Regions from separate parts of the Homo sapiens genome. Here all the other regions are linked to region 1. The links come from fine-mapping of genetic effects on plasma protein levels. A gene starts in region 1. Each other region holds a variant in brackets. All regions are shown on one strand. Distances are from middle to middle.

Region 1 (8,007 bases):
AAAGAGTGGGAAGGAAAAAGACCCTAATTCTTCAGCACCACCCATTGGCTTGGTCCAAGAAGACAGAGCTGTCAGACAGAGAAATCTGTGTGATGTAGACTGTGTCACAGAGAAGAGCAGCAGGAAGATGAGGGCTGGATCTGAAAGCTACCTGGGCAAGGATCCAAACCAACAACTCCACTCCAACCCCATGAGACTCAAAGGAGGAGAGTTTAAGCTTTTGCTGTTTTTTAAATAAATTACTAGGATCCATAATAATACCAGTAAAAGGTGAGATCTGAAGGATGAGAGACACTATGAAGAAACAGTGTGAGACAGTAATAATGCACTGATGATCATGGCAGTACAAAAAATGGGAAGTCCTTCATGAGTCAGGTTTCTTTAAACCCACATGCAACTCCCACTTAGATGGACACAACAGTATGTGAAGACTCATACTGTGTTCTTTTGTTCCAAGAACCACCACGGGAACACACCAGGAAAACCAAAGGAATTCACACACCCTTTGAAAGAAGCAGGACACTGCTGCAAATTTTGCAAAACAGGTGAAAAACTGTAAGTTCCCAAAGTGTGAGAGGGAAAAAACCTGCCTCTGAACACACATCCCCACTGGGGAATCTGAAAATCCAGATCAAGGGAGAATTTAACCTTACCTTGAACTGAAACAAATGTAGGCAGTCACACAAAATATAAAAGTAGAAGTATCAGTATCAGAAGACTGCAAGGCACTTCCAATCTTCAGCTTGAGCCCAGGGAAGCCATTCCTGACTATATCTCACAGGATCTCTCAGGGAAGGCAGCCAGTGGAATTGGGGAGGGGTCACCAGGTGAAGGAAGCTTCCAACTGAAATTGGTAGTGGTTTCAATTGGACACAAACTTTCTTTAGTGGAGTCTAGGGGACGAGTGGGAGCTTTGGCAATATGAGCACATGAACTCAGAAGCAAAGAAGCCACTCCCGTTGGAGTGGGCAGATGGGGAGGGGTGATATCTGAAATCCATGCTTGCTTTCTCAGTGGGAAAGTTCACAGCCTTGGGCAAGATCTGAGTGGGGCACTTTGGGAGTGAGACTGGCCTTGCCAACTGTGTGGGAGCTGGGTGAGACCTCTCGCTACCAGCTTTCCGCCACTTCCCTGGTGAATTATATGACACAACAGAGGTAGCCAAGATCCCCTCTGGAAAATAACCCCATTGGCCTAAGAACCACCCCCACATCCCGCACAGTGGCCACAGCAAACCCCACCCAAGGAGACTCTGAGCCCAGACCCACCTAACCCTGCCCCAACATGATGGTATTTCTTTACTCACCCTGGTAACCAAACACAAAAGATAGAAACTCTTGGGAGCTTTCAGGCCCCACCCATCATCTGAGAAACCAAAATACTCACCCTGGCCAACTTAGGGCAAACCTAGATCCCTCTACTACCAATGCAGCTGGTGCTCTCTTGAAAGCACCACTTCTTGGCTGGAGGCCAAACAACACAGGCCATTACAGCAACTCATGACAGAATAACCCTGAACCCAGGAAGGAGAAGATAACACCTAATTCCAATGCCTGCAACATCCTGGCTAAACAGAGGTCCTGAGTGTGTCCACATGAAAACTTCACTGCTAGCATAACCAGCATTCAAGAAACCCAGCACACTACACATATCTACAACCAAGGACTCTCACAGAGTCTACTTCACTCCCCTTCCACCTCCACCAGAGCAGGTAATGGTATCCATGGCTGGGAGACCTGAAGAGAGATCACATCACAGGACTCTTTGCAGACATTCCCCAGCACCAGCTGGAACCTGGTAGCGCCACTGGGAGGCTAGACCCAGAAAAGCAGTAACAGCCAATGCAGTCCAGTGGTCAGAAAGTCCCATCCCTAGGGGAAGGGGGAGAGCACCACATCAAAGGATCACCCCATGGGATAATAGAATCTGAACAGCAGGACTTGAGTTCCAGACCTTTCCACTGAAATAGTCTACCCAAATGATAAGGAACTAGAAAGGTAATTCTGGTAATATGATAAAACAGAGTTCTATATCACCTCCAAAAGATCACACTAGCTCCCCAGCAATGGATCCAAACCAAGAAGAAATCTCTGAATTGCCAGATAAACAATCCAGAAGATCATTAAGCTACTCAAGGAGATACCAGAGAAAGGTGAAAAAACAACTTTAAAAATTAAAAAATATATATATACATAAATATAGGATATGGGTGAAAAATTCCCCAGAGAAATAGATATCATAAAGAAAAAATAATCACAACTTCTGGAAATGAAAGCCATGCTTAGAGAAATACAAAATCCACTGGAAAGTTTCAACACTAGACTAGAACAAGCGGAAGAAAAAACTTCAGAGCGCAAAGACAATGCTTTCAAATTAACCCAATCAAACAAAGACTAAGAAAAAATAATTTTTAAAAAATGAACAAAGCCTCCAAGAAATGTGGGATTATGTTAAACAGTCAAACCTAAGAATAATTGGTGTTCCTGAGGAAGAAGAGAAATCTAAAAGCTTGAAAACCTTATTTGAGGAAATAATTGAAGAAAACTCCCCTGTCCTTGCTAGATACCTAGACATCCAAATACAAGAAGCTCAAAGAACACCTGGAAAATTCATCACAAAAAAGTCTATCACCTAAAGTCCTATCCCAGTTCTGTTAAAGTAATAGCAGGAATAGCACCTTATAAATACCTAGAAAAATAGTAGAAGGAAACATGCTTAAGCATTAATAATGATCTCCGGTGGTAGAATTTTTGGTAAGTTTAATTTTATCATTTACATGTTCCTACTTAACTATACATATATATTTATATATATTCATATACATAAATATACAAACATATGTATATATACACATTTTTGTTTATGGACAGCCTATGACTGTGAGCCAAGGGACATCAGAGACATGGCTCTCTGGAAACTGAGAGAATACTTAGTGGACAGTTTTTTGTTTGTTTGTTTGTTTGTTTTTGAGATGGAGTCTCGCTCTGTCACCCAGGCTGGAGTGCAGTGGCGCGATCTCAGCTCACTGCAAGCTCCACCTGGGTTGACGCCATTCTCCTGCCTCCGCCTCCCAAGTAGCTGGAACTACAGGAGCCCGCCACCACGCCCGGCTAATTTTTTGTATTTTTAGTAGAGATGGGGTTTCACCATGTTAACCAGGATGGTCTCGATCTCCTGACCTCGTGATCCACCCGTCTTGGCCTCCCAAAGTGCTAGGATTACAGGCATGAGCCACCGCGCCCGGCCTTAGTGAACAATTATTATCAGGATGATCAGCATCCATTTTTCCATCACCTGGCAACAACAACTAGCATTTCTCAAGGGAAATCCCCTCCTCATTCATAAGCACCATAGATGGAGTGGAACAGTCCCCACCTCAGCTTAAGGAGGGCTAAATAACCAAAGCATAAAGCAATCAGTCCACTACACTTCAGTGGACCCAATGATGACTCATTTTGGTTCAATAAATATCAAGTCCAGAACTTTTGTGCAGAACTGTGGAATAAAAAAAGTTATCTTTGTCACAGAATATTTATATTTAAAGAGGGGATTCTAAATATCCCAAAAATATGAATCTGAGATAGTGGTAAGATAGGAATGGGTTGCCATTTGCAGTATTTGTTGGGTGTGTGCAACTCTGCATACTGCTAAGGCAAGTCCAGCCTCCGTCTCACACCAACAGGCAGATTTCCCCACCACGGCCCTTACCATCTTGTGCTCTAACCCCAGATTTTCAGTCTACTCTTGCTAACCATCAATTCTTCAAGGGCAAGAGCCATGTCTCTCATATCCCTGGATCTGGCTTGCTAAATAATTATTCATGATTTTATCTGAGTAGAAAAAGAGCCAAGAACTGAGAAAAGGAGACATTCTTGGTTCTCAGTCACTGAGGAGCTTCTGCAGTACCAGCCTTTCTGCTAGCTGCAGCCACAGCTTCAACAGCTCCACCTCCTTGTTCTTTATTCTTGCTTTCACCTTGTTACTCAGCAGCAGGGGTGTAAATGTGACAGTGCCATGTCAACTTAAACCAAACCAGATAATTTTAATAAACCACCTTCTATAATGACACCCATCAAAACCAGAAGGGGACAAGTCTAGGAGGTCTCTGAGTTTACTGTACCCATCCCTCCTTCATCTCCCTCCAGCATTTGTTTCTGGAAGGAGTCAACACCAACAGCTCTGACCTGGGCAGCCTTCCTGAGAAAATGCAGCCATTCCTCCTCCTGTTGGCCTTTCTTCTGACCCCTGGGGCTGGGACAGGTAAGTGACTATCCCTATTCCAGAGGCCTGAACCCATCTTATAAGATACCCTGTACCCATGAGCACTGGTCAGGAATTTTCCTCAATCTGAGCCCACCTCCCATTCCACACCCAGACTTATAAATCTGAGGCTAGATAGACACTCAGCAAAGATCGAAAAATGAAGGGTGTTCCCTAAAAGGTTTAATGGGTGTTAGCCTCTCCCTAGACCTCTCCTTTATGACCTGGAGTGTGGATTGTTCTTAGAAAGGCATTTGGTAGGGAATGTGAAGCTAAAAAAGATAAGTAATTATTACTCTACACTCCAACCCAGGAAAGAGGAGCTCAGACACCAAGTTGCAGTCATAGGAGTTGTTACTGGACTCAGCTTAAGAACCACTTATTCAGTGCCCCCACCCAGTCACCCCTGCCAGGAGGGAAGCCCATGGTGCAACTGATCTCAGAGATGGCAAGATGACTGTGTCCATAGCTCTCCCATTACCTTGGCTCCACCTGGGCTTTGCGATTCATTTTTAGTTGATTTCTCCACTTCCTTCTGCCTTTGCAGGCCCTCAGCTACTCCACTGACCTGGTGATAACCCCCTCTAACATCCCTGAGGTCCTGAATCCCACCAGCACTACCCCCACTAAACCTCAGCCAAAGGCTAATTGGAGGCTATTCATTTATGCACCAAACAACACTTACTGAGAACCTAGAATGTGTTCAGCCCTGGCACATGAGAATTTTAGAAAATCCAACTCCAGAAGCTCATGGGTAGATCATTAGAAAATGGCACCAATCAGGAGGACAGCAGAGGCTCAGAGGAATCAGAGAGACTCACTAAAAAGGAGGAGCCTGGGAAGTCCTGTCCAGGATCCTCTGGGGCTCTACCACTGTGAAAATAGATCTTTCTTCCTCCATGTGTGTTTCTGCAGTAGGATGCAGAAGTCAAGCACTGTCCATTCTTTCTGAGAGAAGGTTCTGAGACTTAAAGTTCAGAAAAGCTTGCTCTGCCTGCAAGGAGTACTGCCTGCAGAGCTCAGGAGGACCCCTCCCTCACTGTCTGCAGCACACAAAACACTTCACCCTCAATCACTGTCGTCCTAAGCCTTCTCTCCTGACTGCAGCCATCCCCAGCTACTTTATCTTCCAGTCTTTCCTTTCAGAGGAGATCATCGGGGGCCATGAGGCCAAGCCCCACTCCCGCCCCTACATGGCCTTTGTTCAGTTTCTGCAAGAGAAGAGTCGGAAGAGGTGTGGCGGCATCCTAGTGAGAAAGGACTTTGTGCTGACAGCTGCTCACTGCCAGGGAAGGTAAGGAGCAGCACCAGCTCACCTCCTGAGTTCCCCCTACAGGGACCCTTGTTTTCTCCTGGGGACTGCAGCCCAGGGGAGCTTCCAGAGTTCCTGGTAACACAAGCCCATGAAAGCTCATCGGAGCAGCCACCTGGGAATAGGACTAAGATGATGAAAGGCTGAGAAATAGGACAGGGTCAGAGGGTCAGAGGGTCAGAGGTCAGAGCAAGTGGCATGGTTTCACACACTGGCCCAATAAGGCAGTAGTAAAGGTTGAATCCATGCATTAAGGATCAAAATGCAAACTCGAGCAATTTCATGATATTTCCTGAAGGCAAGAGAGAGCCCCCAGAAGCCCTACTCTTCATGTCTTTGTGAAGTAGAGGGCACAGTCACTCAGCCCTGGAGCCCTCCTGTCCCTTCAACTTCCCCTCAGCTGCAGCCCTACCCTGCCACAGCTGTCATCTGCTCTTCACTGCTCCTGGGCTCTATCCCCTGTGACTCCACCCCCATCCTCACTCTGCTCTCTGTGCAGCTCCATAAATGTCACCTTGGGGGCCCACAATATCAAGGAACAGGAGCGGACCCAGCAGTTTATCCCTGTGAAAAGACCCATCCCCCATCCAGCCTATAATCCTAAGAACTTCTCCAACGACATCATGCTACTGCAGGTGAGGCACACTCCTGCCACTCTTGCTCTTCTTGGTCCAGTTGGTTCCACTCCCACTGGGATGCCGGCCCTTTCCTCCTTTCCATCCTGACCTCTTGGTCAGTTCCTGTGCCTTAGAGGAGAGGGAAGATTGTGCAGCCCCATCACTGTGTCGGGGCCCAGAAGGCCATTGCCTGACCTGGACTTTCTTGCTTCTTCCCCACCAGCTGGAGAGAAAGGCCAAGTGGACCACAGCTGTGCGGCCTCTCAGGCTACCTAGCAGCAAGGCCCAGGTGAAGCCAGGGCAGCTGTGCAGTGTGGCTGGCTGGGGTTATGTCTCAATGAGCACTTTAGCAACCACACTGCAGGAAGTGTTGCTGACAGTGCAGAAGGACTGCCAGTGTGAACGTCTCTTCCATGGCAATTACAGCAGAGCCACTGAGATTTGTGTGGGGGATCCAAAGAAGACACAGACCGGTTTCAAGGTTGGGTTTCCAGCCTCTACCCAGAAAGACCACAGGGAGAGAGGAACTTGAGGGAGTTCTGGGGTATGACAGTGGCCAGATCTTTATGCTCTCAGCCCAGAGCTTGGGCAGCCTGTGTCCCCCTGGAATCTAGTCTTTAGTCCACTCCTTGGGTGGACTGGGGTGGCTGGAGGGGAAGGATCTGTCATCCGACAGTCACTTATCACCAAAGTGTCCGTGAGAATTGCAGAGAAAGGCTTGGTCTGGGGAGAGCCAGAAAGCACAGCCAGGGCCATGCTGGAGACCCAGGACTGAGGGAGGTGAGTGACAAGGCCTGCCTGGCACTGATGTCACACAAAATCCATAACAGAGACCACCCATCCCAGGGAACACTAGCTCAGTCTTTCCTCTCTCTGTTCACAGGGGGACTCCGGGGGGCCCCTCGTGTGTAAGGACGTAGCCCAAGGTATTCTCTCCTATGGAAACAAAAAAGGGACACCTCCAGGAGTCTACATCAAGGTCTCACACTTCCTGCCCTGGATAAAGAGAACAATGAAGCGCCTCTAACAGCAGGCATGAGACTAACCTTCCTCTGGGCCTGACCATCTCTGGGACAGAGGCAAGAATCCCCAAGGGGTGGGCAGTCGGGGTTGCAGGACTGTAATAAATGGATCTCTGGTGTAAATATGACTGAAGTCTTATTTATTCACTGAACCATCTTCAATATGCAACAACACTGCTCCAGGCAGCCGTCTGCTGTCAGTTCTGGCTTTTGCTTCTTCCTTTCTCCCCCAGCCCTCCCTCCTCCCTAAACCCCATGCTGTACAGTTTTTTCACTAATTTCTCAATCACATGTCTTTGATACTGAACCCTCTGTTAGAGCTGGTTTGAACTCCATTATAAACAAACAATCTTCACCCCTCTCCCTTCACAAAAAAAAATAAACCTCTCTGGACGTTAGGAATTTCTTATCGTCTCTAAACCAACTACCTACTCCCCTAACAACGTAGCAGAGAATGGAGCAGGGCAGTGGAAAGGAAATAACTCCAGGGACTCAGAAGGCCAGGGGCCATGCCATGAGTACTCAGTTTCCTATTTTCAGGGCCTGTCCCTCCAATGGGGGCAGGCTTCTCCCACAGCCAGGTCTGCCTGCAGCTTAGGAGGTTGAGATGCTCCTCTGCACCTAGGTCCCTCTTCCCTGCCCTGGGCCCAGCCCTGAGCTCAGTCAACCTTCTTCCTTCCTGGCCGGCCTTCCCAGCTCCCAAGAGTTTTTCACCCAAGTGCCCTGGCTACCAGTTTCTTTCCCTTCTAGATCACCCTGTTCTGAAGCCAGCCTCTCTCTCATGTCCCTAACAGAG
Region 2 (8,007 bases), 62 kb before region 1:
CATTCTCAGCAATCTAACACAGGAACAGAAAACTAAACACTGCATGTTCCCACTCATAAATGGGAGTTGAACAATGAGAACACATGGACACAGGGAGGAGAACATCATACACCAGGGCCTGCTGGGGGGTGGGGGGCTAGGGGAGGGATAGCATTAGGAGAAATACCTAAAGTCGATGACGAGTTGATGGGTGCGGCAAACCACAATGGCACGTGTATACCTATGTAACAAACCTGCACGTTCTGCACATGTATCCCCAAACTTAAAGTATAATAATAAGAAGAAGAAAGAGAGAGAAAGAGTGAGAAATGTAGAAAATGTTGACATTTTGAATCTTGGTGAGGGGTGTCCAGAAATTATTTGTCTTATTCTTGCAACTTTTCTGTAATCCTGAAATTATGTCAAAATACAATGTTTTTTTAACTGGCTTCATTCTTTTCCTTACCCCACAAATGCATCAATCACCAAGTCCCTGTGGTTCCATTTCCTAAATACCTCAACAAACATAGTCACTTCTATTTTTCTCTACCGCCACTACCCTAATACAAACCACCCCTCTTGCATGAACTACAAAAACAAATAATAAAAAAATAGCAAATATCTAAATGGTATAATCTTAGAAACTTTTACCTTTCTAGCCTTCCTTCTAAATGGGCTTGTATTTGAGGTCCCAACCTATCAATAAGATAAGAAAAGGGAATAAATGTAAGGATTGGGAAATAAAATAAAGTAGTAATGTTTATAGATGATATGCCTGTCTATCTTCTCTACATAGATGACCCAAGAGAATCTACAAACTAGTACAACTAATTATACTCAATGAGCTCAATATACAAAAACCAATTCCTATACAACAACCAATGAAAATATGTATTTTTAAAGGTAACAGTAATAAAAGTACAGGATGTCTAGAAACAAATCCAACAGAGATGTAAGATATGTACAGATTAAAATAATAAAAGCTTATAAGGAACATAAAAGAAGACTTAATAAATTGAAAAGATATAAAATATTGATGGATGGTGTAGCAGAGCTACAAGTTATCTATACGAAACCTTGGCATCACCTTTTTTGTGAACAAAATTCAAAATTTAGGGAGAGAGGAGTATAAAATATATTTTTGCTAAATTTTCTTTCAGATAGGCATAATATTTTACAAAGTTCTGACCAATAAAAGGTAAACAAAAGTCTGAGATCATTTCTATTTTATTGTTATTTTATTTTTTCTTTTGCTTTTTGGGTGAGGCATCAACCCTCTTTCTTCTTCCTTGTTCCTGATACAAATCTGACTTGATGCCTGGAGTAGCTGCAACCATCTTGTGGCAAGGAAGCAATAAGCATAAGGGGGAATATCAACATATACATACAGAAGTCCAAGACACTGATGAGAAACATTACACAGTCACTTCAGCAGCCCTGGACTGCTCATCTCCAGACTGGTTGTCATATAAGAAACAGAAACCGTTACTGTTTGCACTGCTATGTCAGGTTTCTCTCACTTGAATCAAAAATATTGCTGAATGTTACAGATGGGAACACACAAAGTTTTAAAAATGGTAATTCTCCCCAGATTAATTAATAAATTCAAGTAGACAAGTGTAATCTGGATATGGCTGAAAAACCTTGTTGCTCTTTGCAGAGTTGTGTGAAATAGCAAACAGGAAGCTGCTACATCCGGTTCTGGGCACTCTTAGGCTTTTGCTGGGACCAACCCAGACACCTAGAGATTTTGTGCTTTACTTACAGCATGTACCTGCTTCTTCCATGGGGCCACTCCATAAGCTCCTTTTGCACAAGGACAGCCCATCCTCAGCAATGACCTCAGCCCCCGACCACCCCTCTTTCCATTCCCCCACCCACAGTCATATTTTATTTTGACATGGAGCAGGATGTCGAGGGAGTTTTCTTAGAACTGATTCTATTTCAGGGGCAAACATTCACTCTCAGTGAGCTTAGGGTGGGGAGCAGGAGAAATGGGGGCGGAGAGGAAAATTAGTTTTCCTCACCCACCTCAAAATGAGAAAAGAGGCTGAGTTTGCTAAGAAATAACCTAGGGGTTCTGGTCGCCCCTGAGGGGCTTCTGATAAATGATTCAGAGGATACCCTTTCCCTCACCCACTCCTGTAATCACACACCCCACATGGACATGAGCAATCCTTTCCAGCACACACCGCCCTCTACAACTTCTTAGGTGGGCACTTCCCTTGTAGCTCTGGTCCATGAGTGACCTGAATTTTTCTGCCTTTTGTCTCCATTCCTAATGTAGAATTTTGGGATTCCAGGTACACTACTCACATCCTCACCTTTTCCCTCCTTCCACATAATTCCTGAAAGTCCCTCAAAGGAGATGCATCGCAAGTTCTCACACGCAAGTCCTTGGCCAGTCCCCGGAACTAGGTTTTCCTTTCTTCGACATTGACTCATCCTTCTTCCTGCTGAGACTGATACAGCCCGCAAAGCTACATCAAAGCACTTCAGCACTATCTGTGGTGACACCACTGAGCCATCATCTTCTCTAATGTTCTTTGAAAGGGCACCGGCCATCAAGACCCAAAAAGATGCTGCGTTTTCTTTGAAGTTCTTTAAAGCATCCAAACCTCAATGTGTCACATCCCTAAATGGTGGCTACACCTCTTTTGACATTTCAACACCAAAGCAACTCTATTTGTGCCTTGGTGTCTCTCAGAAATTTTTAGTGCAAAGAATGCTTTCATTTTGCATGGCCTCTCTTTCATGAGCTGTGCTGGGACAGAAAGCTGTGCTGTCTCATTCTGCTCTCTCTCCTCCCATTATTCCTTCTTTTTGACCCAAGGCTGATGCCCCCACTTTGAAATTTTCAACAAAAGGGAGTATTTTAGTCCCTCTCTTAGTTTCTAGAGAAATAAGCGACTGCTGGCTGGGCCCCAGGTGTATAAGCTCTTTTGGCTTCCAGGTTCAAGCACACGGAATTTGAATCTCACTTCCTCACACACTGAGCTGCTTCCCCTTTCCACTTCTCCTGTGAAACCCTAAGTCCTCTCAATCACATTTCAGGGCCTGATGTGGCTTTTTGAGAGGCTTTCTCCAGCATCTGCATCTCAATCCCCATTCAATGATGAGAAGAGCACTCACCAAGCCCCATCACTGTAACATACCACACAGTTTGGGTATAAGCAACAAATGCTCAGTCATGGATGACAGCAAAGTTGTAGGAATAAGGATTTTTTCAGCAGATGAATAAAATAATGAAAAATACCAATAATCTAAATGACC[C/T]CAAATAAGTAACTGGTTGAATAAATAGTGCTGTATCCACACAATGAAAAATTCAGCAATAGTTGAAATTAGTAGTGTGGAAGTAATCTCAAAGAGCCCAAGATGGCCCATATTAGAATCGCTCAGAAGCCTGTAAAAAATACAGATTTCTGGATGTGGATCCCAATGACGGAGTCAGAAGCACTGGGAGTAGACTTGGAATCTTTATTTTAATAGGTAACTCCAGTGATAATGCAAATCAAAGTTTAAAAATTTACAACCATGGCAGCATAGTTAATTATGAGGTAAAATGATCATGATATATTGTTAGATGAAAATAGTATGTTATGAAAAAAGAATGTATAATATAATCTCATTTTTAAAAAGTAGTGTGACTAGAGAGATGATATATAGGTATATAGGTAAAGACTGAAAAAATAATGCCAAAATACTAACCATGGTTAGTGGTGTGTTTATAGAAGATTTTTATTTTACTCTTTTTACTTTTTTACGTGTTGAGTCCAATTTGTAAATTTCCAAAATAAACATTTAGTTTATGTGTGTTTAAAGAAAACAATAAAAGTTGTTTTGTTTTGCTTTTTAAAAAAGGATAAGAGGTAAATGACATGGGACTTTTAAATTTACTTATACTCTAGATTTTAAAAAATAAAAAAGGCAGCTTGCAAAAATTTTGTACCACATAATAAATAAAAATTTTAAATGAAGAGTTAAAAATAAAGGGGAAGTAAGGGTGCTAATATAAATGAAGCCAGGATTAAGGTTGGTATCCAAGAATGCATTGCCTCAAACTTCAGTTATGTTTCTAAAATGAGCTATAAATTTGCCTCTTCCTAATGTCACAAGACTAGACATGAGCAGATAGGGAGAGGGAGGTTCAATATCATTAGACATTAGGGAAACAGGAATCAGAACCACAATGAGATACCATTTCATACCTACTAGGATAGCTAAAATAAAAATTAATGTTTTAAAGGAAAGCAAGTGTTGGCAAGAATGTGGAGAAATTAGAATCCTTGTACGTTGCTGCAGGAATATAAAAGGTAGAATGTAAATGTAAAATGATGAAGAGTTTGACAGTTGCTCAACATTAGCAGCACTATACACAATAGCTAAAAAGTGGGTAATATCTATCAACTGATGAATAGATAATAAAATGTGATATATCTATACAGTAGAATATTATTCAGCCTTAAAAAGGAATGAAGTACTGATTCATGCTACAACATGGGTGAACCTTGAAGACATTACATTGAGTTAAAGAAGACAAACACAAAGGGTTGCATATTACATGACTCCATTTATATTAAATATCTAGAACAGATAAATCCATAGATATACATTGTGTTTTTCGGGGGCTGGGGGAAATGGAGGAATGGAGTGTGATTGTTTCATGGGTATGGAAGTTTCCTTTTGGGGTGATGAAAATGTCTTGAGATAATGATTTCAAAACAGTATGAATGTACTAAATGCTACTGAACTGTGCACTTTAAAATGGTTAATTTTATGTCATGTAGATTTTACTTCAATTTTCTAAAAGTAGGAGTAGTTTATGAAAGTTAAACCCAAGAATACTGAGGTGTTCCAGAAGGTTCCATTTGGAAAGGGAGAGGAAATAATTAGCCCAGTTTTGTACCTTGAGTTTGATATGTCCATGGAGAATCCAACTGAAGGTGCCAGAAGTCAATTAGGATTATCAATCTGGAGCTAGGGAGAGAATTCTGGACTGGACCTCTATATTTGAGAATCATCAGGTGGATAATGGAAACTCAATCTACACATGTGGGTGTGGGTTCTCCTCAGAGTTTCCTAACACAAATGAAGTGGAGTATAGGCCCCAGTGGAGAAACCCTGTCATTTTTCCAGGAAAAATTTCCGTGTCGATGTGGACTTTACATTCATTCATTGTTTTTAATTAAAGTGGAGTATGGCATGTAAATTTTTCACCTTCCAGAAAAGCCTTTGCTGTAATATGGTTGGATTCATTTGATATGACAGAATAGTATTTAAAAGACCTGACCTATGATTTGCACATTACTGGAACAATCAACCACAGTCACCTCTTCTTCAACTTTCATTTCTGTGTGCCTGAAGTGTGAAGAAGGGTCCTCCCTCACCTTTCCTGGCATTCGATCCCAGGTGTTTGTGGTGAGCCTATTGGAGAGCCCACCCATGACTGATGTGTCACAAGAAGGGATGTGATGCCATGGCTGAGGTAATACCAGGTCATACTTTTTTCCAAATCTTTTCTAATGTTTGACTCAGAACAGATTTCAGTGTGCAATACTTAAAGTAGCATTTTTTTTAAAATATAGTAAGCCTTGACAACTGTTTAATCTGGATGATGAGTGCATGGGTATTATGGCACTATTTTCTCCATGTTTTAAATGTTGAAATATTTATAATTTTTAATAGAATCTTTAACATTATGATGACTTATATTCCACACAAGTTTATTAAGCATCAATTTTGTTCCAGGTACTAAGTTAGGTGGTTTCATACATGACTAGTGCCTGCAGAATAAACCAGTTTGATGATGGTTTCCTATTCTAAATAACAGGCTACACTTAGGTTACCATAAAGAATGTTCCGGAGTATGAAGATGGTTAACATCCATTGGGTCAATAAGAAGTGAAGATAAAATTTGACATGGATAAGAAGATTTGAAATAATCTCAGAAGATAAATCGAAAATTAAAGACAGCCCTCTTTAAAAAAATAAAATAATTAAGGGGGACATAAGAGTTGTTCCACTATTTCTAAATGGCTGGCATGTGCAGGGGAAATTATAGGGTTAAAATCTGCGAACTAGGTCAGCTTTATGTATTTGGCTCACAATGAAGATGTAAAGTTCACCAGCATTTACCTGGGTAAAACCACACCATTAAATTGGTTTATGGTTGGTACCTACCATGTGCCAAGCTCTGGGCATGGTATTTCACATACCTTATCTCATTTAATCATTTTAGCAGTCCTGTGTGCTGACATTTTTTAATGTATGTGGAAACAGCTCAAGAGTTCAAATAACTTGGTCTTAAGTCACAAAGTTAGTAAACGGTCAAGCTAATATTCAAACTTGAGTAAATCTGTTGCCAAACCTATGTCTTGCCAAAAGAACATGCTTCATGGGAATAGATTGCTCTGGAATTCATGTCTTTTAACTTTCTTTATGGTTTCTTTTAGTGTGCAGATCTTTTTCACTTAAATGTTAATATATTAACATTTTCTTTTGTGGTCTGTGCTTTTTGTGTTTAGTTAAGGAAACTTCTCTACCCTGAAGTCATAGGATACTCTATCTACACCCTAAAGTCATAGGATATTCTATCTTTTCTTTTAAACTTATAAACATTTGTTTCTTACATTCAGGTCTATAACTGTCTTTAACTTCTATTTGGTAATGGTGTAAATTAAAGGTGTAACTTAATTTTTCCCCCACATGAATAATGAATCATCCAGCACCACTGATCAGGCTCCATTTTTTTCCCTATTAGTTCCTCATGCTTTGTAGTATATTGAGTTCATAGATGAGGAGGTCAATTTCTGAACTTTCTACTTTCTTCTACTAGTTTTTTTTTTAATTTCTGTATAAATGCTGCATTGTCCTAATAACTGTAGTCTTGTAACAAATATTCGTATTTAGTAAGGTAAGCTCCCATATTTTTCTACTCTAATTTTTTTCTGGGTTATTCTAGGCCTTTTGGTTTTCTAGTCAAATTTTAAAAACAACATAATTTCCTTGAAAACCCCTATTGGGCTTTTGATGAGAATGGTATCACATGTCAATTAATTTTGGGAGAATCGACATCTTTAAAAATGTTGAGTCTTCTCATCCAGAGATTAAGTATGTTTCCCTGTTTACTTTTCTTTTTTAAAAATAACTTTCTCCATAAAAGCCTCAGGTACCTATTACTTATTTTTAGATACCTTAGAGACTTTGTTTCTACTGTAAATAAAATTCTTTTTAAAATTATATGTCATAATTTTTGTAAGTGTCTAGAACTTAATTGATGCTGATAATTATCTTGTATCTAGCAACCCTGTTGAACTTTTTATTAGTTTGTAGATTCTGTTAGGTTGTTCAGTTATCTTTTCACAAATAAGCATTGCATTTGTATAAAATATGGCACTCAAACTTATCAACATACATGTGTAAAGTCTAAAATTACAAAATTTGAAATATAACACATCTTTTATTTTCTATAAATTGATGTAATTTTGACTCAAGCATGCCATGCATTTGAGCTGGCAAGGAATTTAACTTTAGTTAGCCATTCTTGAGACTTACTTCAACCTAAGGACAAGTAATAGTTCCAGGGTCTTAACACCAAGGCTGACGGGCTGGCAAGTTCTCTCCCTGGTCACATGCCATCAATCCAGGAGGTTTACTGATAACACGTTTGTTCTCTCTGAGCAGAGTCTCCTACCATTCTGTGACTCTCTGCAGTGTTCACACCCATTAGGATGACAGGAATTTCAATGGAAGCTAATAGCCCTAAGCCCAGTGCTCCATTTTTTCTGCCACTTCCATGAAATCTGGCTCTTATCTGTCTCTGCCTCCAAAGAGCTTGAGAAAGTCTCAGAGGTCTCAGAATGCACAGCCTTCACCCAACCCCCAGGCAAGGGATATCTTTTTCTAGGCTAAGGAAAACCCCTCCCCACCTCCTGAATCTTCAAGTCACATTGCTTTCCCCCTCAAACTTTATCCTTCCTTTTTCCTTTCCCAATAGTCTTTCACAAACTTCCAAACCCAGAATCTAGG
Region 3 (8,007 bases), 10 kb before region 1:
GTTCATCTCATTGGGACTTGTTAGGTGTGGGTGCAGTCCATGAAGGGTGAGCAGAAGCAGGGTGGGGCGTTGCCTCACCCAGAAAGTGCAAGGAGTGGGGGGCCTCCATTTCCCAGCCAAGAGAAGCTGTGAGGGACTGTGCTATCCAGTCCAGATACTACACTTTTCCCATGGTTTTTGCAATCCGCAGACCAGGAGATTCCCTTGTGTGCCTACACAACCAGGACCCTGGGTTTCAAGCACAAAACTGGGCAGCTATTTGGGCAGACACCAAGCTAGCTGCAGGAGTTTTTTGTTTTTGTTTTTGTTTTTGTACCCCAGTGGCACCTGGAACCCCAGTGAGACAGAACCGTTCACTCCCCTGGAAAGGGGGCTGAAGCCAGGGAGCCAAGTGGTCATGTTCAGTGGGTCCCACTCCCACAGAGCCCAGCAAGCTAAGAACCACTGGCTTGAAATTCTCACTGCCAGCACAGCAGTCTGAAATCCACCTAGGAAGATCGAGCTTGGTGGAGTAAGGGGTGTCCACCATTACTGAGGTTTGAGTAGGCGGTTTTCCCCTGACAGTGCTTAGGAGGCCAGGAAGGTTGGACTGGGCAGAACTCACCACAGTTTGGCAAAGTGGCTGTGGCCAGACTGCCTCTCTAGATTCCTCTTCACTGGGCAGGGCATCTCTGAAAGAAAGGCAGCAGCCCCAGTCAGGGGCTTATAGATAAAACTCCAATCTCCTTGGGACAGAGCAACTGGGGGAAGGGGTGGCTGTGGGCACAGCCTCAGCGGACTTAAACATTCCTGCCTGCTGGTTCTGAAGAGAGCAGCAGATCCTGACAAAGAGAGTTCTCCCAGCACAGCACTCGAGCTCTGCTAAGGGACAGACTGCCTTCTCAAGTGAATCCCTGATCCACATGCTTCCTGACGGGGAGAGATCTCCCAACAGGAGTTGACAGATACCTCATACAGGAGAGCTCCAGCTGACATCAGGCCAGTGCCCCTCTGGGATGAAGCTTCCAGAGGAAGGACCAGGAAGCAATCTTTGCTATTCTGCAGCTTCCGCTGGTGATATCCAGGTACATAGAGTCTGGAGTGGACCTCCAGCAAACTGCAGCAGACCTGCAGAGAGAGGCCTGACTGTGAGAAGAAAAGCTAACAAACAGCAATAACATCAACATCAACAAAAAGGACCCCCACACACATATAAAAAAAAAATCCCATCGAAAGTAAATCCATGAAGATGAGGAAAAAGCAGTGCAAAAATGCTAAAAATTTCAAAAACCAGAATGCTTCTTCTCCTTCAAATGATCACAGTTCCTCTCCAGCAAGGGTACAAAGCTGGACGGAGAATGAGTTTCACAAATTGACAGAAGTAGGCTTCAGAAAGTGGGTAATAACAAATTCCTCTGAGCTAAAGGATCATATTCTAACCCAATGCAAGGAAACTAAGAAACTTGAAAAAAGATTAGACTAATTGCTAACTAGAATAACCAGTTTAGAGAAGAACATAAAAGACCTGATGGAGCTGAAAAATACACCATGAGAACGTGACGCTAACACAAGTATCAATAGCAGAATCAATCAAGCAGAAGAAAGGATATGAGAGACTGAAGATCAACCTACTGAAATACTGTGTGAAGACAAGATTAGAGAAAAAAATTAAAAAGGAAAGAACAAAGCCTCCAAGAAATATGGTACTATGTGAAAAGACCAAGCCTATGATTGATTAGGGTCCCTGAAAGTGATGGAGAGAATGGAACCAAGCTGGAAAACACACTTCAGGGTATTAATCAGGAGAACTTCCCCAACCTGGCAAGAAAGGCCAACATTCAAATTCACAAAATACAGAGAACACCACTAAGATACTCCTCAAGAAGGGCAAGCACAAGACACATAATTGTCAGATTTTCCAAGGTTGAAATGAACGAAAAAATGTTAAGGCAGCCAGAGAGAAAGGTCAGGTTACCTACAAAGGGAAGCCCATCAGACTAACAGCGGATCTGTCTGCAGAAACCCCACAAGCCATAAGAGAGTGGGGACCAATATTCAACATTCTTAAAGAAAAGAATTTTCAACCCAGAATTTCATATTCAGCCAAATAAATTTTCATAAGCGAAAGAGAAATAAAATCCTTTACAGACAAGCAAATGCTGAGAGATTTTGTCACCACCAGCCATGTCTTACAAGATCTCCTGAAGGAAGCACTAAATATGGAAAAGAAAAACCAGTACCAGCCACTGCAAAAACACACCAAAATATAAAGACCAATGACATTATGAAGAAACTGCATCAACTAATGTGCAAAATAACCAGTTAGCATAATGATGACAGGATCAAATTCACACATAAAAATACCAACCTTAAATGTAAATGGGCTAAATGCCCCAATTAAAACGCACAGACTGGCAAATTGGATAAAGAGTCAAGACCCATTGGTGTGCTTTATTCAGGAGATTCATCTCACGGTGTAAAGACACACATAGGCTCAAAATAAAGAGATGGAGGAATATTTACCAGGCAAATGGAAAGCAAAAAAAAAAAAAGCAGGGGTTGCAATCTTGGTCTCTGATAAAACAGACTTTAAACCAACAAAGATCAAAAAAGACAAAGAAGGCCATTACATATTGGTAAAGGGATCAATTCAACAAGAAGAGCTAACTATCCTAAATATATATGCACCCAATACAGGAGCATCCAGATTCATAAAGCAAGTCCTTAGAGACCTACAAAGAGACTTAGACTCCCACACAATAATAGTGGGAGACTTTAACACCCCACTGTCAATATTAGACAGATCAACAAGATAGAAAATTAACAAGGATATTTGGGACTTGAACTCAGCTCTGGACCAAGCAGACCTAATGAACATCTACAGAACTCTTCACCCCAAATCAACAGAATATACATTCTTCTCATCACCACATCATACTTATTCTAAAATCAAACACATAATTGGAAGTAAAACACTCCTCAGCAAATGCAAAAGAAAGGAAATCATAAAAAACAGTCTCTCAGACCACAGTGCAATCAAATTAGAACTCAGGATTAAGAAACTCACTCAAAACCATGCAACTCCATGGAAACTGAACAACCCGCTCCTGAATGACTACTGGGAAAATAACGAAATTAAGGCAGAAATAAAGAAGCTTTTTAAAACCAATGAGAACAAAGAAACAACATACCAGAATATCTGGGGCACAGCTAAAGCAGTGTTAAGAGGGAAATTTATAGCACTAAATGCCCATATCAGAAAGCAAGAAAGATCTAAAATCGACACCCTAACATCACAATTAAAAGAACTAGATAACCAAGAGCAAACACATTCAAAAGCTAACAAAAGACAAGAAAGAACTAAGATCAGAGTGAAACTAAAGGAGAGAGAGACACGAAAAACCCTTCAAAAAATCAATGAATCCAGGGGCTGGTTTTTTGAAAAGATCAAAAAAATAGACCACTAGCCAGATTAATAGAGGAGAAAAGAGAGAAGAATCAAATAGACCCAATAAAAAAAGATAAACGGGATATCACCACTGATCCCATATAAATACAAACTGCCATCAGATAATACTATAAATACTTCTTTTTTTTTTTTTTCTTTTTGAGACGGAGTCTCGCTCTGTCGCCCAGGCTGGAGTGCAGTGGCGGGATCTCGGCTCACTGCAAGCTCCGCCTCCC[G/A]GGTTCACGCCATTCTCCTGCCTCAGCCTCCCAAGTAGCTGGGACTACAGGCGCCCGCCACTACGCCCGGCTAATTTTTTGTATTTTTAGTAGAGACGGGGTTTCACCGTTTTAGCCGGGATGGTCTCGATCTCCTGACCTCGTGATCCGCCCGCGTCGGCCTCCCAAAGTGCTGGGATTACAGGCGTGAGCCACCGCGCCCGGCCTACTATAAACACTTCTATGCCAATAAACTAGAAAATCTAGTAGAAATGGTTAAATTCCCGGACACATACATGCTCCCAAGACTAAACCAGGAAGAAGTCGAATCCCTGAATAGGCCAATAACAAATTCTGAAAATGAGGCAGTAATTAATAGCCTACCAAGCGAAAAAGGCCCAGGACCAGATGGATTCACGGCTGATTTCTACCAGAGGTACAAAGAGGAGCTGGTACCATTCCTTCTGAAACTGTTCCAATCAATAGAAAAAGAGGGACTCCTCCCTAACTCATTTTATGAAGCCAGCATTATCCTCATTCCAAAACCTGACAGAGACATAACAAAAAAAAAATTTTTCAGACCAATACCACTGATGAACATAGATGCAAAAATCCTCAATAAAATACTGGCAAACCAAATCCAGCAGCACATCAAAAAGCTTCTCCATCACGATCAAGTTGGCTTCATTCCTGGGATGCAAGGCTGGTTCAATATATGTAAATCAATAAACCTAATCCATCATGTAAACAGAACCAATGACAAAAACCACATGATTATCTCAATAGATGCAGAAAAGGCCTTCGATAAAATTCAACAACCCTTCACGCTAAAATCTCTCAATGAACTAGGTATTGATGATACATATCTCAAAATCATAAGAGCTATTTATAACAAACCTATAGCCAATATCATACTGAATGGGCAAAAGCTGGAAGCATTCCCTTTGAAAACTGGCACAAGACACAGATGCCCTCTCTCACCACTCCTATTCAACACAGTATTGGAAGTTCTAGCCAGGGCAATCAGGCAAGATAAAGAAATAAAGCATATTCAAATATGAAGAAAGGAAGTCAAATTGTCTGTTTGCAGATGACATGATTGTATATTTAGAAAACCCCATCATCTCAGCCCAAAAACTCCTTAAGCTGATCAACTTTAGCAAAGTTTCAGGATACAAAATAAATGTGCAAAAATCACAAGCATTCCTGTACACCAACAGTAGTCAAGCCAAGAGTCAAATCATGAGTGAACTCCTATTCACAATTGCTACAAAGAAAATAAAATACCTAGGAATACAACTTACAAAGGATGTGAAGGACCTCTTCAAGGAGAACTACAAACCATTGCTCAAGGAAATAAGAGAGGACACAAACAAATGGAATAAAATTCCATGCTCATAGATAGGAAAAATCAATATCATGAAAATGGCCATAGTACCCGAAGTAATTTATAGATTCAATGCTATTCCCATCAAGCTACCAACAAGACACCAGGAAAGTCAATGGTAGACTTTCCTCACAGAACTAGAAAAAACTACTTTAAATTTCATATAGAACCAAAACAGAGCCCATATAGCCAAGACAATCCTAAGCAAAAAGAACAAAGCTGGAGGCATCACGCTACCTGACTTCAAACTATACTACAAGGCTACAGTAGCCAAAACAGCATGGTACTGGTAGCAAAACAGATCAAAACAGATACATAGACTAATGGAACAGAACAGAGGCCTCAGAAATAACACCACACATCTACAACCATCTGACAAACCTGACAAAAACAAGAAATGGGAAAGGATCCCCTATTTAATAAATAGTGCTAGGAAAACTGGCTAGTCATATGCAGAAAACTGAAACTGGACCCCCCTTCCTTACACCTTATACAAAAATTAATTCAAGATGGGTTAAAGACTTAAACATAAAACCTAAAAGCATTAAAACCCTAGAAGAAAACCTAGGCAATACCATTCAGGACATAGGCATGGGCAAAGACTTTATGACTAAAACACCAAAAGCAATGGCAATAAAACCCAAATTTGACAAATGGGATCTAATTAAACTAAAGCGCTCCTGCACAGCAAAAGAAACTATCATCAGAGTGAACAGACAACCTACAGAATGGGAGAAAAATTTTGCAATCCATCCATCTGACAAAGGGCTAATATCCAGAATCTACACAGAACTTAAACAAATTTACAAGAAAAAAACAACCCCATCAAAAATGAGCAAAGGATGTGAACAGACACTTCCCAAAAGAAGACATTTATGCAGCTAATGAAAATGTGAAAAAAAAACTCATCATCACTGGTCATTAGAGAAATGCAAATCAAAACCAAATGGGATACCATCTCACACCAGTTAAAATGGTGATCATTAAAAAGTCAGAAAACAACAGATGCTGATGAGGATGAGGAGAAATAGGAATGCTTTTACACTGTTGGTGGGAGTGTAAATTAGGTCAACCATTGTGGAAGACAGTGTGGTGACTCCTCAAGGATCTAGAACAAGAAATACCATTTGACCCAGCAATCCCATTACTGGGTATAGACCCAAAGGATTAGAAATCATTCTACTATAAAGATACATGTACATGTATGTTTATTGCAGCAGTATTTACAATAGCAAAGACTTGGAACCAACCCAAATGCCCATCAATGATAGACTGGATAAAGAAAATGTGGCACATATACACCATGGAATACTATGCAACCATAAAAGAGAATGAGTTCATGTCCTTTGCAGGGACATGGATGAAGCTGGAAACCATCATTCTCAGCAAACTAACACAGGAACAGAAAACCAAACACCACATGTTCTCACTCGTAAGTGGGAGTTAAACAATGAGAACACATGGACACAAGGAGGGGAACATTACACACTGGGGCCTATTGGGGGGTGGGGGGCAAGAGGAGGGAGAGCATTAGGACAAATACCTAATGCATGCAGGGCTTAAAACCTAGATGATGGGTTGATAGGTGTGGCAAACCACCATGGCACATGTATACCTATGCAACAAACCTGCACGTTCAGCACATGTATCCCAGAACTTAAAGTAAAATAAAAAAACTAGAACAATTATAACAATATATTCTAATAAACGTTATGTAAATCTGGTTTCTCTCTTAAAATATCTTACTGTTTTCAGAGCACTGTTGACCATGGGTAACCAAAACTGCAGAAATTGAAACTGCAGATAAAGGAAGACTATTGTACAAGGATATCAGAAATGTGTCCTAGACAGAAATGTGAGGATACTATTTGGCTCCCTGGCATCAGTTTTTAGTTCACATGGAATTAGTAATTCACTAAAGAGATTGTCTTCCTGGAAAACTAACCCTCCTTCCATTCATAGTATATAAAGTTTAGACAAAGCAGATCTCAGTCTATCCAAAAGCTATGCCCAAGGCTTATACCAATCAAAGTAGCTTCAACTCTTCTCTGACGAATCCTTCATGCACCTAACGCAATGTGGCAGATTGTACTTTCTGTAATGACTGCCACTGCACATCTCCCATCCCAGCAGCTCTCCTTACATGACTTCAACACTCCTCTCACTGAGAGGCAAAGTCTATGTCCCTTTCTTTTAAATCTGGGTGGGGGCTTTAGATTGCTCCAAGCAATGGAATGTTGTAGAATGGATACCATATGACTTCAAAGTCTAGGTAACAAAAAGGACACAGCTTCTGCCTGGCTCACTTTTTGGGAGGATGATCACTCTGGGAAACCCAGCCACCAAGTGGTGAGAAACAATACCATGCAGTGAAGCAACATAGGGAGGCCGCCATGAAGAAGACATGAAGCTCCCAGCAACTACTGCTGAACCTGTGAGTGAGTGAACCTTCAAATGATTCCAGCCTCCAGGCTTCAAGTTGCCCCTGCTGACATGGAGGGGAGCAGTGACAAGCTATCAACACCAACCCTGATCCAAATTGCAGGCTCGTGGGCAAGGTAAATATTGTTATTGTTTTAAATGACTAAAATCTTTAGTGCTGAAGCACACCTTCTTCTGCATTTCTCCACATCATTCTTTCCATTCCTCTAAGCATGGCCTTCACCATCCTTATCTAATCACTAGTGTTTTTGTGTCCTCCAACAGAGCCAAGGAATCTCATCTCCAGTATCTGTGAGTCTCACACAGAAAAGGACCCCATAAGAGCTGTAGAAAAATCTTTGACCCTCTTTTTTTCCAGATTCCATGGAATTTAGTGGTGTAGTGGTTAATATCAGATGCTCTGGAATCAAGCTATGATGCTCAAACCCTGGCTACTCCCTCCTCACAGTGTGAGATTGAGCAAGTTACTTAACTTCTCTTGATCACAACTTTTTCATGTAAAAATAGAGATAGTATCAATACCTACCTTGCATAAT

Alleles and levels. Alleles are on the strand shown, and positions count from the first base shown. The strength of an association depends on the size of the effect and on how common the allele is.
With allele C in place of T in region 2, the plasma level of the protein whose gene starts at base 4,134 in region 1 is higher (weak association).
For the plasma level of the protein whose gene starts at base 4,134 in region 1, A is the low allele of the variant in region 3 and G is the other (moderate association).

What was found. A credible set is the group of variants that fine-mapping cannot tell apart. PIP is the posterior inclusion probability: the model's chance that the variant is causal. Protein levels are from antibody-based Olink assays in UK Biobank. Linkage for the fine-mapping came from a reference panel and not from the study's own genotypes, which makes the PIPs less certain.
Region 2: its variant is the best candidate, but not a certain one, in a credible set for the plasma level of the GZMH protein (UK Biobank, PIP 0.74).
Region 3: its variant is the best candidate, but not a certain one, in a credible set for the plasma level of the GZMH protein (UK Biobank, PIP 0.89).

The regions. Positions count from the first base shown.
Region 1 is chr14:24,605,812-24,613,818 of GRCh38, reverse strand. It overlaps GZMH (granzyme H), which reads left to right and starts at 4,134. Exons shown (of 5, transcript NM_033423.5): 1 at 4,134-4,260; 2 at 5,407-5,554; 3 at 6,072-6,207; 4 at 6,413-6,670; 5 at 7,073-7,339. The coding sequence starts at 4,206. The coding sequence ends at 7,216. RefSeq lists an enhancer at 7,553-8,007.
Region 2 is chr14:24,668,193-24,676,199 of GRCh38, reverse strand. No RefSeq gene overlaps it. Among named protein-coding and RNA genes, the nearest start is that of GZMB, 38 kb to the right of the region's middle. RefSeq lists enhancers at 1,360-1,409, 2,730-2,779, 1,671-2,870, 3,110-3,159. The variant C/T (reference allele first, on the strand shown) is at 3,253.
Region 3 is chr14:24,616,068-24,624,074 of GRCh38, reverse strand. No RefSeq gene overlaps it. Among named protein-coding and RNA genes, the nearest start is that of GZMH, 10 kb to the right of the region's middle. The variant G/A (reference allele first, on the strand shown) is at 3,664.